3 separate regions of the Homo sapiens genome follow, and all the other regions are linked to region 1. Evidence: fine-mapped expression QTL. A gene starts in region 1. Each other region holds a variant in brackets. All regions are shown on one strand. Distances are between the middles of the regions.

Evidence for each region. PIP is the estimated chance that this variant, and not a neighbour inherited with it, causes the effect. A credible set is the group of variants that fine-mapping cannot tell apart.
Region 2: its variant is the best candidate, but not a certain one, in a credible set for the expression of MTOR in whole blood (TOPMed, PIP 0.50).
Region 3: its variant is the best candidate, but not a certain one, in a credible set for the expression of MTOR in activated naive CD4 T cells (Schmiedel 2018, PIP 0.62).

The regions. Positions count from the first base shown.
Region 1 is chr1:11,260,852-11,265,076 of GRCh38, reverse strand. It overlaps MTOR (mechanistic target of rapamycin kinase), which reads left to right and starts at 2,526. Exons shown (of 58, transcript NM_004958.4): 1 at 2,526-2,632. RefSeq lists an enhancer at 2,179-2,338 and a silencer at 2,759-2,808.
Region 2 is chr1:11,044,613-11,048,816 of GRCh38, reverse strand. MASP2 (MBL associated serine protease 2) reads left to right here and starts at 1,578. Exons shown (of 11, transcript NM_006610.4): 1 at 1,578-1,614; 2 at 1,698-1,926; 3 at 2,084-2,261; 4 at 3,278-3,409. The coding sequence starts at 1,610. RefSeq lists an enhancer at 2,241-3,073. The variant C/T (reference allele first, on the strand shown) is at 2,257.
Region 3 is chr1:11,199,390-11,203,614 of GRCh38, reverse strand. MTOR (mechanistic target of rapamycin kinase) reads left to right here. Exons shown (of 58, transcript NM_004958.4): 27 at 3,912-4,074; 28 at 4,212-4,225. Among named protein-coding and RNA genes, the nearest start is that of ANGPTL7, 12 kb to the right of the region's middle. The variant T/C (reference allele first, on the strand shown) is at 1,652.

The DNA of each region.
Region 1 (4,225 bases):
TTGCATTTTTTGTAGAGATGAGGTTTCACCATGTTGCCCAGGTGGGCTCAAACAATCCACCTGCCTCAGCCTCCCAAAGTGTTGGGTCACTGTGCCTGGCCAATATCATAGATATTAACAATAACAACAACAACAACAAAAACCCTGCCAAACAAAGCATTTTGTTAGCCACGGAATATTGACATCTTTATTTGTTTATTTATTTATTTATTTGAGATGGAGTCTCACTATGTTGCCCAGGCTGGTCTCAAATGCCTGGGCTCATGCAATCTTCCTGCTTTGGCCTCCCAAAGTGCTGGGATTACAGGTGTGAGCCACCGCACCCAGCCCAACTATCTTTAATTTGGCAGTTTAGACCTTCTGAAAACTCATTTCTTCTACCTTCACTTGTTTTTATTACATAAGTAATTGATAATGTATAAAGAAAAAAAGTGTGTCTTTCCCAAATTACATCTTAGTTGTGCACATTTCCCCCATGTAAACAGAGACATATAAGAAATGCATAAATATTTTTGTAAATGGTTGTATTATACTTACATTGTTGCACAACTTGTAATTTTTAAACTAGTTGTGAACCTTTTCCTTCTTAGCAAATATTCATCTAATTACCACTATTTATTGTTATTATTATTATTTGAGACAGGATCTTTCTCTGCTGCCCAGGCTGCAGTGCAGTGGAGATCACAGATGACTGCAACCTTGAAGTCATAGACTCAAGTGATTCTCGTGCCTCAGCCTTCCAAGTAGCTGGGACTACAGGCATGTGCTACCACACACAGCTAATTTTTAAATTTCTTTTGTAGAGACAAGGGTCTCACTATGTTGCTCAGGCTGGTCTGGAACTCCTGGCCTCAAGCAATCCTGCCTCGGCCTCCCAAAGTGCTGGGATTCCAGGGATGAGCCACCATGCTAGGCTCTAAATTATAATTATTAATGGCTATGTATTTTTCTTATTATGAATGCATCTTTTTTTTTTTTTTTTTTTTTTTTTGAGATGGAGTCTCGCACTGTCACCCCAGCTGGAGCGCAGTGGCGCGATCTCGGCTCACTGCAACCTCCGCCTGCTGGCTTCAAGGGATTTTCCTATCTCAGCCTCCTGAGTAGCTGGCATTACAGGCACCTGCCACCACGCCTACCTTTTTTTTTTTTTTTTTGTATTTTTAGTAAAGACGGGGTTTCACTATGTTGGTCAAGCTGGTCTCAAACTCCTGACCTCATGATCCGCCCGCCTCGGCCTCCCAAAGTGCTGGGATTACAGGTGTGAGCCACCGCGCCCAAACGAATGCATCATATTTTATTGGACTCCTACTTTGAAATATTTAGGAATTTTCAGTGTTTACTATGACAAATAGCACTGTGATTAAAAAAAAATGTAGTCAAATCCACTTTTGCTGTTGATTTTTTTTTTTTTAATCTGTAGAGACATCGTCTCGCTATGTTGCCCAGGCTGGTCTGGAACTCCTGGCCTCAAGCGATCCTCCTGCTTTGGCCTCCCAAAGTGCGTGGGCCACCGTGACCAGCAGTTATTTATTTTCTTTGGTTGTGTGTGTGTGTGTGTGTGTGTGTGTGTGTGTGTGTGTGTATGTATGTATTGAGACGGAGCTTGCTCTGTTGCCCAGGCTAGAGTGCAGTGGCACGATCTCGGTGCATGCAACCTTCACCTCCCGGGTTCAGGCGATACTCGTGCCTCAGCCTCCCGAGTATCTGGGATTACAGGCGTGAGCCACCATGCCCAGCTAATTTTTGTATTTTCAGTAGAGACGGGGGGTGCGGGTGGGGGAATTTCACCATGTTGACCAGGCTGGTCTCGACTCCTGACCTACGGTGATCCGCCTGCCTCGGTCTCCCAAAGTGCTGGAATTATGGGCGTGAGCCACCGCGCCGGGCCAGCTATTGATTTTTTGAAAGGATTTTTAAAAAATAATGTTGCTTTGAAAATTTTTATTTATGACTAGCTCTTTTGGTTAAAACTTGGCTATGGTTTCTCTGGAGTGATCCTGAGTTGGATAATTTTGGGAAAGTTAGAGAATCTAATTAAAAACATTTTCAAATGCTTATTAATTGTAACAAAAGAGATATCACAGGATCCATAAAGAGCGCTAGCCCGAAACGTCTTTTGATGCAGTAATTCCTGGGCACCGGCATCGCTCACATTCTCCTCTCAGAATTACACCGGGAGGGGTCGCGAACCTCTGCTAGCCGCTCTCGCTGCGATCCGGAGATACCCAGACACCGGACTCCTTGAGTTCACAGCCCGGATGCAGAAGGGAATCCTAGCAGCGCCGTACCGGATGTGTGAGTGGAAGTGACTGAGGTGAACTCACGACCGATTGGTTCTCCCGAGTGGACCCAAGCCTGTTTTCACCTGCCACTGGCCGCGTGGTTTGTCTATTTGAACAGTCCCCGCCCCCTGGAGAAGCCGGGTCCTGAAGCTTCTCTTCTTCATTACTATTGGCCTGTTTTTCAGTCCATCTTCTCCCTATACCTGTCGATTGGTCCTCAGGGCTGGGAACCCTCCTTCCCTCGCTCCCGGCTTAGAGGACAGCGGGGAAGGCGGGCGGTGGGGCAGGGGGCCTGAAGCGGCGGTACCGGTGCTGGCGGCGGCAGCTGAGGCCTTGGCCGAAGCCGCGCGGTGAGTCTAGGGCCTGGCACGACCCCTCTAGGGCGGCGTAATGTCCAGACCCACGGCCAGCCTGCCCGTGGGGGGGCCAGGGGAAGCCGCCCGTCTGGGACGTGGGGTCCCCACATTGCCGGCCCCACGACCTGGGCACCGTCTGAGGCCTTGACTCCCACCCCTCGAGGCAACGCCCACCTCCCCGGGACCCCCAAGAGACCCCTGGACCCTTCGGCCCGCGGTACGTCCGCCCGAAGGCCGGCCCATCAGCTCTGGTATTGCCCTTTGGGTCTTTTGCCTGTCACAGCCACCCTTTCTTTTGAGCCACGTATAAAAATTGTGTATCTCTGCCCCAGGGAACACTAGCGTCCGTGTCAGCCCCTTGTCCTCCACTGTGGACACCTCTCAGAGATCCAGTCCCCGAAACTGAGCTTGGTTACATCGTTGGGGTACATCTTCTCTCCCTCTCCCCCAGCCCCATCCCTGTTTCCCCCATCCAATCTTAACTTCCTTAAGCCCTATCAACACCATTAGGATATTTGACTTCAGATATCCTAAGTTTAATTGAATTCAGTCTGGAGCAGATGGCCTGTGGGCCTCAGATCATATAAAGATACACTGGTTCTTTCCTGAGAATAGAAATCCCTTGCCAGCCACCTTCCCCCCTTTCGGACGCACACACATACACACAAACTGGAGTAGTTTTCTTAGCAGGGATTCTTAAGTTTCTTCTCCCCTAAAGGATGACATTTCTTTCTGCAGTCTTCTTCTTGGCAGTGGAGTATTTGAAAGCTTTACAAAACCAATTATTCCCAGGTTTTTCCTCTGTGCCTTACAAATTCTTTCAAAAATAAGAATTTTGAGAAATTGGTTTTGTAGCATAAGCTGAACATACTTGGGATAGGTGTATGTTACACCCATGGCAGTGTGGGCATAATTGAGGAATGAGGGAATGAGCTCAGGAACTAATTGGTGTTTTTTGTTTTGTTTTGAGACGGAGTTTCGCTCTGTCGCCCAGGCTGGAGTGCAGTGGCTCGATCTCTGCTCACTGCAAGCTCCGCCTCCCGGGTTCCCGCCATTCTCCTGCCTCAGCCTCCCGAGTAGCTGGGACTACAGGCGCCCGCCACCATACGGCTAATTTTTTTTTTTTTTTGTATTTTTAGTAGAGGCGGGATTTCACCGTGTTGGCCAGGATGGTCTCGATTTCCTGACCTCGTGATCCGCCCGCCTCGGCCTCCCAAACCCGGCCAGGAACTAATTACTTTCTTTTAGCTTACATTTGAAGAGCTAGTCCCCTGTAGAACTGCGTTGTTCAGTACAAGAACCACCAGCCACATGTGGCTGTGGAGCACTTGAAATGTGACTAGTCCAGGCCGGGCATGGTGGCTCACACCTGTAATCCCAGCACTTTGGGAGGCCAAGGCGGGCAGATCACCTGAGGTCAGGAATTTGAGACCAGCCTGGCCAACATAATAAAACCCCATCTCTACTAAAAACACACAAAAATTAGCCAGGCGTGGTGCTGCACATCTGTAGTCCCAGCTACTCGGGAAGCTGAGGCAGGAGAATCATTTGAACCCGGGAGGTGGATGTTGCAGTGAGCCGAGATCA
Region 2 (4,204 bases), 220 kb after region 1:
AGTAGCTGGGACTAAAGGTGCATGCCACCATGCCTGGCTAATTTAAAAAAATTTTTTTTTTTTTTAGAGACAAGGTCTTGCTATGTTGCCCAAGCTGGTCTTGAACTCCCGGTCTCAGGCGACCCACCTGCCTCAGCCTCCCAGCCTCCTGGGATTATGGGCAGGAGTCACTACACCCAGCCAGAGTCCCGGTCTCTAAAAGAAAATAGGCCAGGCATGGTGGCTCACGCCTGTAATCCCAGCACTTTGGGAGGCTGAGGCGGGTGGATCACCTGTGGTTGGGAGTTCGAGACCAGCCTGACCAACATGGAGAAACTCCGTCTCTACTAAAAATACAAAACTAGCCGGACGTGGTGGCGCATGCCTGTAATCCCAGCTACTCGGGAGGCTGAGGCAGGAGAATTGCTCGAACCCCGGAGGCAGAGGTTTGGTGGCTCACACCTGTAATCCCAGCACTTTGCGAGGCTGAGGCAGGTGCATCGCTTTGGCTCAGGAGTTCAAGACCAGCCTGGGCAACACAGGGAGACCCCCATCTCTACAAAAAACAAAAACAAATATAAAGGGGATAAAAAAAAAAAAAAGACAAGACATGAATCCATGAGGACAGAGTGTGGAAGAGGAAGCAGCAGCCTCAAAGTTCTGGAAGCTGGAAGAACAGATAAACAGGTGTGAAATAACTGCCTGGAAAGCAACTTCTTTTTTTTTTTTTTTTTTTTTGAGGTGGAGTCTCACTCTGTCGTCCAGGCTGGAGTGCAGTGGTGCGATCTCGGATCACTGCAACCTCCGCCTCCCAGGCTCAAGCAATTCTCCTGCCTCAGCCTCCCGAGTAGCTGGGATTATAAGTGCGCGCTGCCACACCTGGATGATTTTTGTATTTTTAGTAGAGATGGGATTTCACCATGTTGGTCAGGCTGGTCTCAAACTCCCAACCTCGTGATCCACCCACCTTGGCCTCCCAAAGTGCTGGGATTACAGGTATAAGCCACCGAGCCCAGCCAAAAGCGACTTCTAAGCCTGCAAGGGAATCGGGAATTGGTGGCACCAGGTCCTTCTGACAGGGTTTAAGAAATTAGCCAGCCTGAGGCTGGGCACGGTGGCTCACACCTGTAATCCCAGCACTTTGGGAGGCTAAGGCAGGTGGATCACCTGAGGGCAGGAGTTCAAGACCAGCCTGACCAACATGGAGAAACCCCATCCCTACCAAAAATAAAAAATTAGCCAGGTGTGGTGGTGCTCGCCTGTAATCCCAGCTACTTGGGAGGCTGAGGTGGGAGGATTGCTTGAACACAGGAAGTAGAGGCTGCAGTGAGCTATGATTGCAGCACTGCACTGAAGCCGGGGCAACAGAACAAGATCCAAAAAAAAGGGAGGGGTGAGGGGCAGAGCCAGGATTTGTTTCCAGGCTGTTGTTACCTAGGTCCGACTCCTGGCTCCCAGAGCAGCCTGTCCTGCCTGCCTGGAACTCTGAGCAGGCTGGAGTCATGGAGTCGATTCCCAGAATCCCAGAGTCAGGGAGGCTGGGGGCAGGGGCAGGTCACTGGACAAACAGATCAAAGGTGAGACCAGCGTAGGGCTGCAGACCAGGCCAGGCCAGCTGGACGGGCACACCATGAGGTAGGTGGGCGCCCACAGCCTCCCTGCAGGGTGTGGGGTGGGAGCACAGGCCTGGGCCCTCACCGCCCCTGCCCTGCCCATAGGCTGCTGACCCTCCTGGGCCTTCTGTGTGGCTCGGTGGCCACCCCCTTGGGCCCGAAGTGGCCTGAACCTGTGTTCGGGCGCCTGGCATCCCCCGGCTTTCCAGGGGAGTATGCCAATGACCAGGAGCGGCGCTGGACCCTGACTGCACCCCCCGGCTACCGCCTGCGCCTCTACTTCACCCACTTCGACCTGGAGCTCTCCCACCTCTGCGAGTACGACTTCGTCAAGGTGCCGTCAGGACGGGAGGGCTGGGGTTTCTCAGGGTCGGGGGGTCCCCAAGGAGTAGCCAGGGTTCAGGGACACCTGGGAGCAGGGGCCAGGCTTGGCCAGGAGGGAGATCAGGCCTGGGTCTTGCCTTCACTCCCTGTGACACCTGACCCCACAGCTGAGCTCGGGGGCCAAGGTGCTGGCCACGCTGTGCGGGCAGGAGAGCACAGACACGGAGCGGGCCCCTGGCAAGGACACTTTCTACTCGCTGGGCTCCAGCCTGGACATTACCTTCCGCTCCGACTACTCCAACGAGAAGCCGTTCACGGGGTTCGAGGCCTTCTATGCAGC[C/T]GAGGGTGAGCCAAGAGGGGTCCTGCAACATCTCAGTCTGCGCAGCTGGCTGTGGGGGTAACTCTGTCTTAGGCCAGGCAGCCCTGCCTTCAGTTTCCCCACCTTTCCCAGGGCAGGGGAGAGGCCTCTGGCCTGACATCATCCACAATGCAAAGACCAAAACAGCCGTGACCTCCATTCACATGGGCTGAGTGCCAACTCTGAGCCAGGGATCTGAGGACAGCATCGCCTCAAGTGACGCAGGGACTGGCCGGGCGCAGCAGCTCACGCCTGTAATTCCAGCACTTTGGGAGGCCGAGGCTGGCTGATCATTTGAGGTCAGGAGTTCAAGGCCAGCCAGGGCAACACGGTGAAACTCTATCTCCACTAAAACTACAAAAATTAGCTGGGCGTGGTGGTGCGCACCTGGAATCCCAGCTACTAGGGAGGCTGAGGCAGGAGAATTGCTTGAACCTGCGAGGTGGAGGCTGCAGTGAACAGAGATTGCACCACTACACTCCAGCCTGGGCGACAGAGCTAGACTCCGTCTCAAAAAACAAAAAACAAAAACGACGCAGGGGCCGAGGGCCCCATTTACAGCTGACAAAGTGGGGCCCTGCCAGCGGGAGCGCTGCCAGGATGTTTGATTTCAGATCCCAGTCCCTGCAGAGACCAACTGTGTGACCTCTGGCAAGTGGCTCAATTTCTCTGCTCCTTAGGAAGCTGCTGCAAGGGTTCAGCGCTGTAGCCCCGCCCCCTGGGTTTGATTGACTCCCCTCATTAGCTGGGTGACCTCGGGCCGGACACTGAAACTCCCACTGGTTTAACAGAGGTGATGTTTGCATCTTTCTCCCAGCGCTGCTGGGAGCTTGCAGCGACCCTAGGCCTGTAAGGTGATTGGCCCGGCACCAGTCCCGCACCCTAGACAGGACGAGGCCTCCTCTGAGGTCCACTCTGAGGTCATGGATCTCCTGGGAGGAGTCCAGGCTGGATCCCGCCTCTTTCCCTCCTGACGGCCTGCCTGGCCCTGCCTCTCCCCCAGACATTGACGAGTGCCAGGTGGCCCCGGGAGAGGCGCCCACCTGCGACCACCACTGCCACAACCACCTGGGCGGTTTCTACTGCTCCTGCCGCGCAGGCTACGTCCTGCACCGTAACAAGCGCACCTGCTCAGGTGAGGGAGGCTGCCTGGGCCCCAACGCACCCTCTCCTGGGATACCCGGGGCTCCTCAGGGCCATTGCTGCTCTGCCCAGGGGTGCGGAGGGCCTGGGCCCTGGACACTGGGTGCTTCTAGGCCCTGCTGCCTCCAGCTCCCCTTCTCAGCCCTGCTTCCCCTCTCAGCAGCCAGGCTCATCAGTGCCACCCTGCCCTAGCGACTGAGACTAATTCTAACATCCCACTGTGTACCTGGTTCCACCTGGGCTCTGGGAACCCCTCATGTAGCCACGGGAGAGTCGGGGGTATCTAGCCCTCGTTCCTTGGGACCTGGTTCCCTGGTTCCCTGCACTGTGGGACGGGCCAGTGCTCTGGGGCGTGGGCAGCCCCACCTGCTGGCGCTGACCCTGCCTCCCCCGACTCGGTTTCTCCCTCTCGGTGTCTCTCCTTGCCTCTCTGATCTCTCTTCCAGAGCAGAGCCTCTAGCCTCCCCTGGAGCTCCGGCCTGCCCAGCAGGTCAGAAGCCAGAGCCAGCCTGCTGGCCTCAGCTCCGGGTTGGGCTGAGATGGCTGTGCCCCAACTCCCATTCACCCACCATGGACCCAATAATAAACCTGGCCCCACCCCACCTGCTGCCACGTGTCTCTGGGGTGGGAGGGTCGGGAGGCGGCGGGGTGCGCTCCTCTCTGCCTACCCTCCTCACAGCCTCATGAACCCCAGGTCTGTGGGAGCCTCCTCCATGGGGCCACAGGCTCCTTGGCCTCACCCCCCGTTTTGAAGATGGGGCACTGAGGCCCGGAGAGGGGCAAGGCC
Region 3 (4,225 bases), 61 kb after region 1:
CTGCAACCCTGCCTCCTGGTTCAAGAGATTCTCCTGCCTCAGCCTCCCGTGTAGCTGGGATTACAGGTGTGTACCACCACACCCAGCTAATTTTGTATTTTTAGTAAAGACGGGGTTTCGCCATGTTGGCCAGGCTGGTCTTCAACTCCTGGCCTCAAGTGATCTGCTCACCTTGGCCTTTCAAAGTGCTGGGATTACAGACATGAGCCACTTGGCCAAAATTTTTTTTATTGATACATAATAGATGTACATATATTTTCAAAGTACATGTGATATTTCGATACATTCATATAATGTGTAATAAAACAAATCAGGATAATTGGGATATTCATCACTTTAGACATCTTTTTTTGTTGTTGTTGTTTGGTTGGTTTTTTTGTTTTCATTTTTGTTTTTGTTTTTGAGATGGAGTCTTGCTCTGTCACCCAGGCTGGAGTGCAGTGGCGCAATTGTGGCTCACTGCAACCTCCGTCTCCTGGGTTCAAGCGATTCTCCTGCCTCAGCCTCCCGAGTAGCTGGGAGTACAGGCACACGCCACCACGCCCGGCTATTTTTTGTAATTTTAGTAGACGTGGGGTTTCACCATGTTGGCCAGGCTGGTCTTGAACTCCTGACCTCAAATGATCCACCTGCCTTGGCCTCCCAGAGTGCTGGGATTACAGGCGTGAGCCACCACGCCCCGCCTGGTTTTTTGTTTTTGTTTTTGTTTTGGAAACAGGGTCTCTGCTGCCCGGGCTGGAGTGCAGTGGGACGATCTCGGCTCACTGCAGCCTCAACCTCCTGGGCTCAAGTGATCCTCCCACGTCAGCCTCCTGAGTAGCTGGGACTGCAGACACGCACCAGGCCCAGCTAATTTTATTTTTTGTAGAGACGAGGTCTCACTATGTTGCCCAGGCTGATCTCAAACTCCTGGACTCAAGCAGTCATCCTGCCTCAGCCTCCAAAAGTGCCGTGATTTATAGGCATGAGTCATCACCATTTTTTTTTTAATTTTTAAAAATTTTTATAGATTTTGGAGTACAGGTGCAGGTTTGTTACATGGATATGTTGCATAGTGGTGAAGTCTGGGCTTTTCGTAGAACCATCACCTGAATAATAGTGTACATCGTACCTATCAGGTAATTTCTCATCCCTCAACCCCGCCAAAAAAAATATTGTTTTAAATAGTAAATCTTTTTTTTTTTTTTTTTTTTTGAGACGGAGTTTTGCTCTGTTTCCCAGGCTGGAGTGCAGTGGCGCGATCTTGGCTCACCGCAACCTCTACTTCCCAGGTTCAAGCCATTCTCCTGCCTCAGCCTCCCAATGAGCTGGGACTACAGGTGCACACCTGGCCAATTTTTTGTACTTTTAGTAGAGATGGGATTTCACCATGTTAGCCAGGATGGTCTCGATCTCCTGACCTCGCAATCTGCCCACCTCGGCCTCCCAGAGTGCTGGGATTACAGGCATGAGCCACTGTGCCCGGCCTAAATAGTAAATCTTAAACAGCCATTTAAAATTTGGTTTACAGGCTGGGCATTGTGGCTCCTGCCTATAATCTCAGCACTCTAGGAGGCTGAGACAGGAGGATCACTTGAGGCCAAGAGTTCAAGACCAGCCTGGGCAACCTAGCGAGACTCTATCTCTACAAAAATGAAAAATTAGCCAAGCG[T/C]GGTGGCATGAAGCTGTAATCCTAGCTACTCAGGAGGCTAAGGCGGGGGGATTACTTGAGTCCAGGAGTTTAGAGGCTGCAGAGAGCCACAATCGTGCCCCTGCATTCCAGCCTAGATGGCAGAGCAAGACTGCATCTCAAAAAAATTTTTTTTTGGTTTATAAAACTTCTAATGCATGTGAAAGATTTATAATATAATGTAAGTAAATAAAATGGAATACAAAATTGAAAATTAAAATAAATGTGAATAGGATAAAGATTAGAAAGTAATATAGCAATGGTTATCTTTAGGGAAGGCTTAAGGAGTGATTATTTTCTTTTTTATTCTCTTCTTTATTTCTTAAATTTTTCTGCATTGGATATTAATTATTTATAATGAGGCATAAAATGGTGATTTAATTAATAAGCAGCCCTTCGCATTGGCAAGAAGCAGAAAGCAAGGCATTTCACTTCATTTTTGTCAGCAGCTGGTTTGCTGTTATGATATATATTTAGCAGTAGTGATGGCCCCTGAGACTGTTGGTTTGATGCCATGATTTGCATCCTCTAATTTCTTTCAAGTATTTTTTAATGCTTTAAAATAGTTTCTAGGACTTCCCTGTTTCCGTAGTGTGGAGATATCATGTACTCAGCTGATGTATTTATTATTCCTCTTTTCTCTCCAGTCACCTCTGAGCACAGTGTTATCCATGAGAGGCTTGTGATATACACAATGTTTTTATCCCCTTAGTCCCAAATACGTTCATTCAAGATCCAATGTGGCCTCTGACCTAGATCAGGAAAACTTTTTTTATGATTTTAGAGATGAAGGTCTTGGTTATTGCCCTGGCTGGTCTTGAACTGCTAATCTCAAGAGATCCTCCTGCCTCAGCCTCCCAAGTCACCAGGATGACCAGCGACTGTAATTACCTGGCTCCGAAAACTTACTTTTAATTTTTTTTTTTTTTTTGAAACAGAGTCTCGCTCTGTTGCCCAGGCTGGAGTGCAGTGGTGTGATCTTGGCTCACTGCAAACTCTGCCTCCCAGGTTCAAGCCATTCTCCTGCCTCAGCCTCCTGAGAAGCTGGGACTACAGGCCACCACCACCGCGCCCGGCTAATTTTTTGTATTTTTAGTAGAGACGGGGTTTCACCATGTTAGCCAGGATGGTCTCGATCTCCTGACCTTGTGATCCGCCCGCCTCAGCCCCCCAAAGTACTGGGATTACAGGCGTGAGCCACCACGCCTGGCCTTATTTTTAAATTTATAACAGACTTTTTTTGGTCTTCATTTGATCCTTTGGATTTCAAATTTTGTTTTTTCTATCAAATTCCAAAATTATACACATTGGTCTAACTTAACCTGTTAATATGTAACAGAAAATAGGTATAGAGGCATCAAATGCTAAATCTATCCATTGTAGGTATATCCTGTTTTTTCCCATTTCCTTCCCCGCACAGTCACCAGAACAGTGGGGAGGACAGAATTAATGTTAGATGTAAGGGATGGCAAATGTGTCCATCATGTGGTACTGTGGTAATGTAAAGTGGTCATAGTAATCTTTGAAATGGAACCTCTGGTTCCATGTCTTTGTGAGGCCCCAACTGTTGGCTTAGAAAATCTTTTAGAACTTAAGGATTTGGATCCTATTTGCTAATGCTTCTAGTCCTGTTGTCATTTTTTATGACCATCCAACTAAGGATTCTGGTTATATTTTGAAAGCAATTGCAGATGCTGCCTTTGACATTTCTGACCTTAAGAATTTAGACATTGTCCCAGAAACATCCCAAGAATCATTTAATGATTATTATTTTCTGCATTTGTTAATGCCAACTTCTATGTTAGAAGTCCCTATACTGTTCATTTCCCATTTCCTCCAGTGAAGAGAAATAATGCAAAAACTGCCAAGAAATATTCCTTTGGAGAAAAGTCACTTTGCTCTGCTCTTCTCCCCGCCCTGCCACTCGCCCCCCAAGTCCCTGAATATCACAATGTCTGTACCTGCAGTGTAAAATTCAGTAGACACTAGCCATATGTGGTTAATTAAAAATAAATAAAATGTAAAATTCAGTTCCTTGGCCACACTTGCCACAGTTCAAGTGCTTTAGTGATCACTGGCTACCATATTGGACAGGAAAATTCTCTTGGACAGCACTGGTCTGTATAGCACTGGTTTGTATAACCAAAATCAGTGATGCCAAAAGCGAATTGATAGGTGTGACTTTGAGGCAGCAGGCAGAGGCACGGGAGGTCTCTCCATTTTCCACCTTCTCTGCCTTCAGGGATCTCTTCAATGCTGCATTTGTGTCCTGCTGGTCTGAACTGAATGAAGATCAACAGGATGAGCTCATCAGAAGCATCGAGTTGGCCCTCACCTCACAAGACATCGCTGAAGTCACACAGACCCTCTTAAACTTGGCTGAATTCATGGAACACAGTGACAAGGTGAGACTTTTCCCCATTGTCCAGATGGAGGCTGACAGGGAACCAGCTGGTGGGAGGAGAGAAGCATCCACACAGCCTTCTCTTGTTTGTGCCCCATCTGCCATTTTCCTGTGCTGTGAGGTTTTGCTCTTCTCCAGGGCCCCCTGCCACT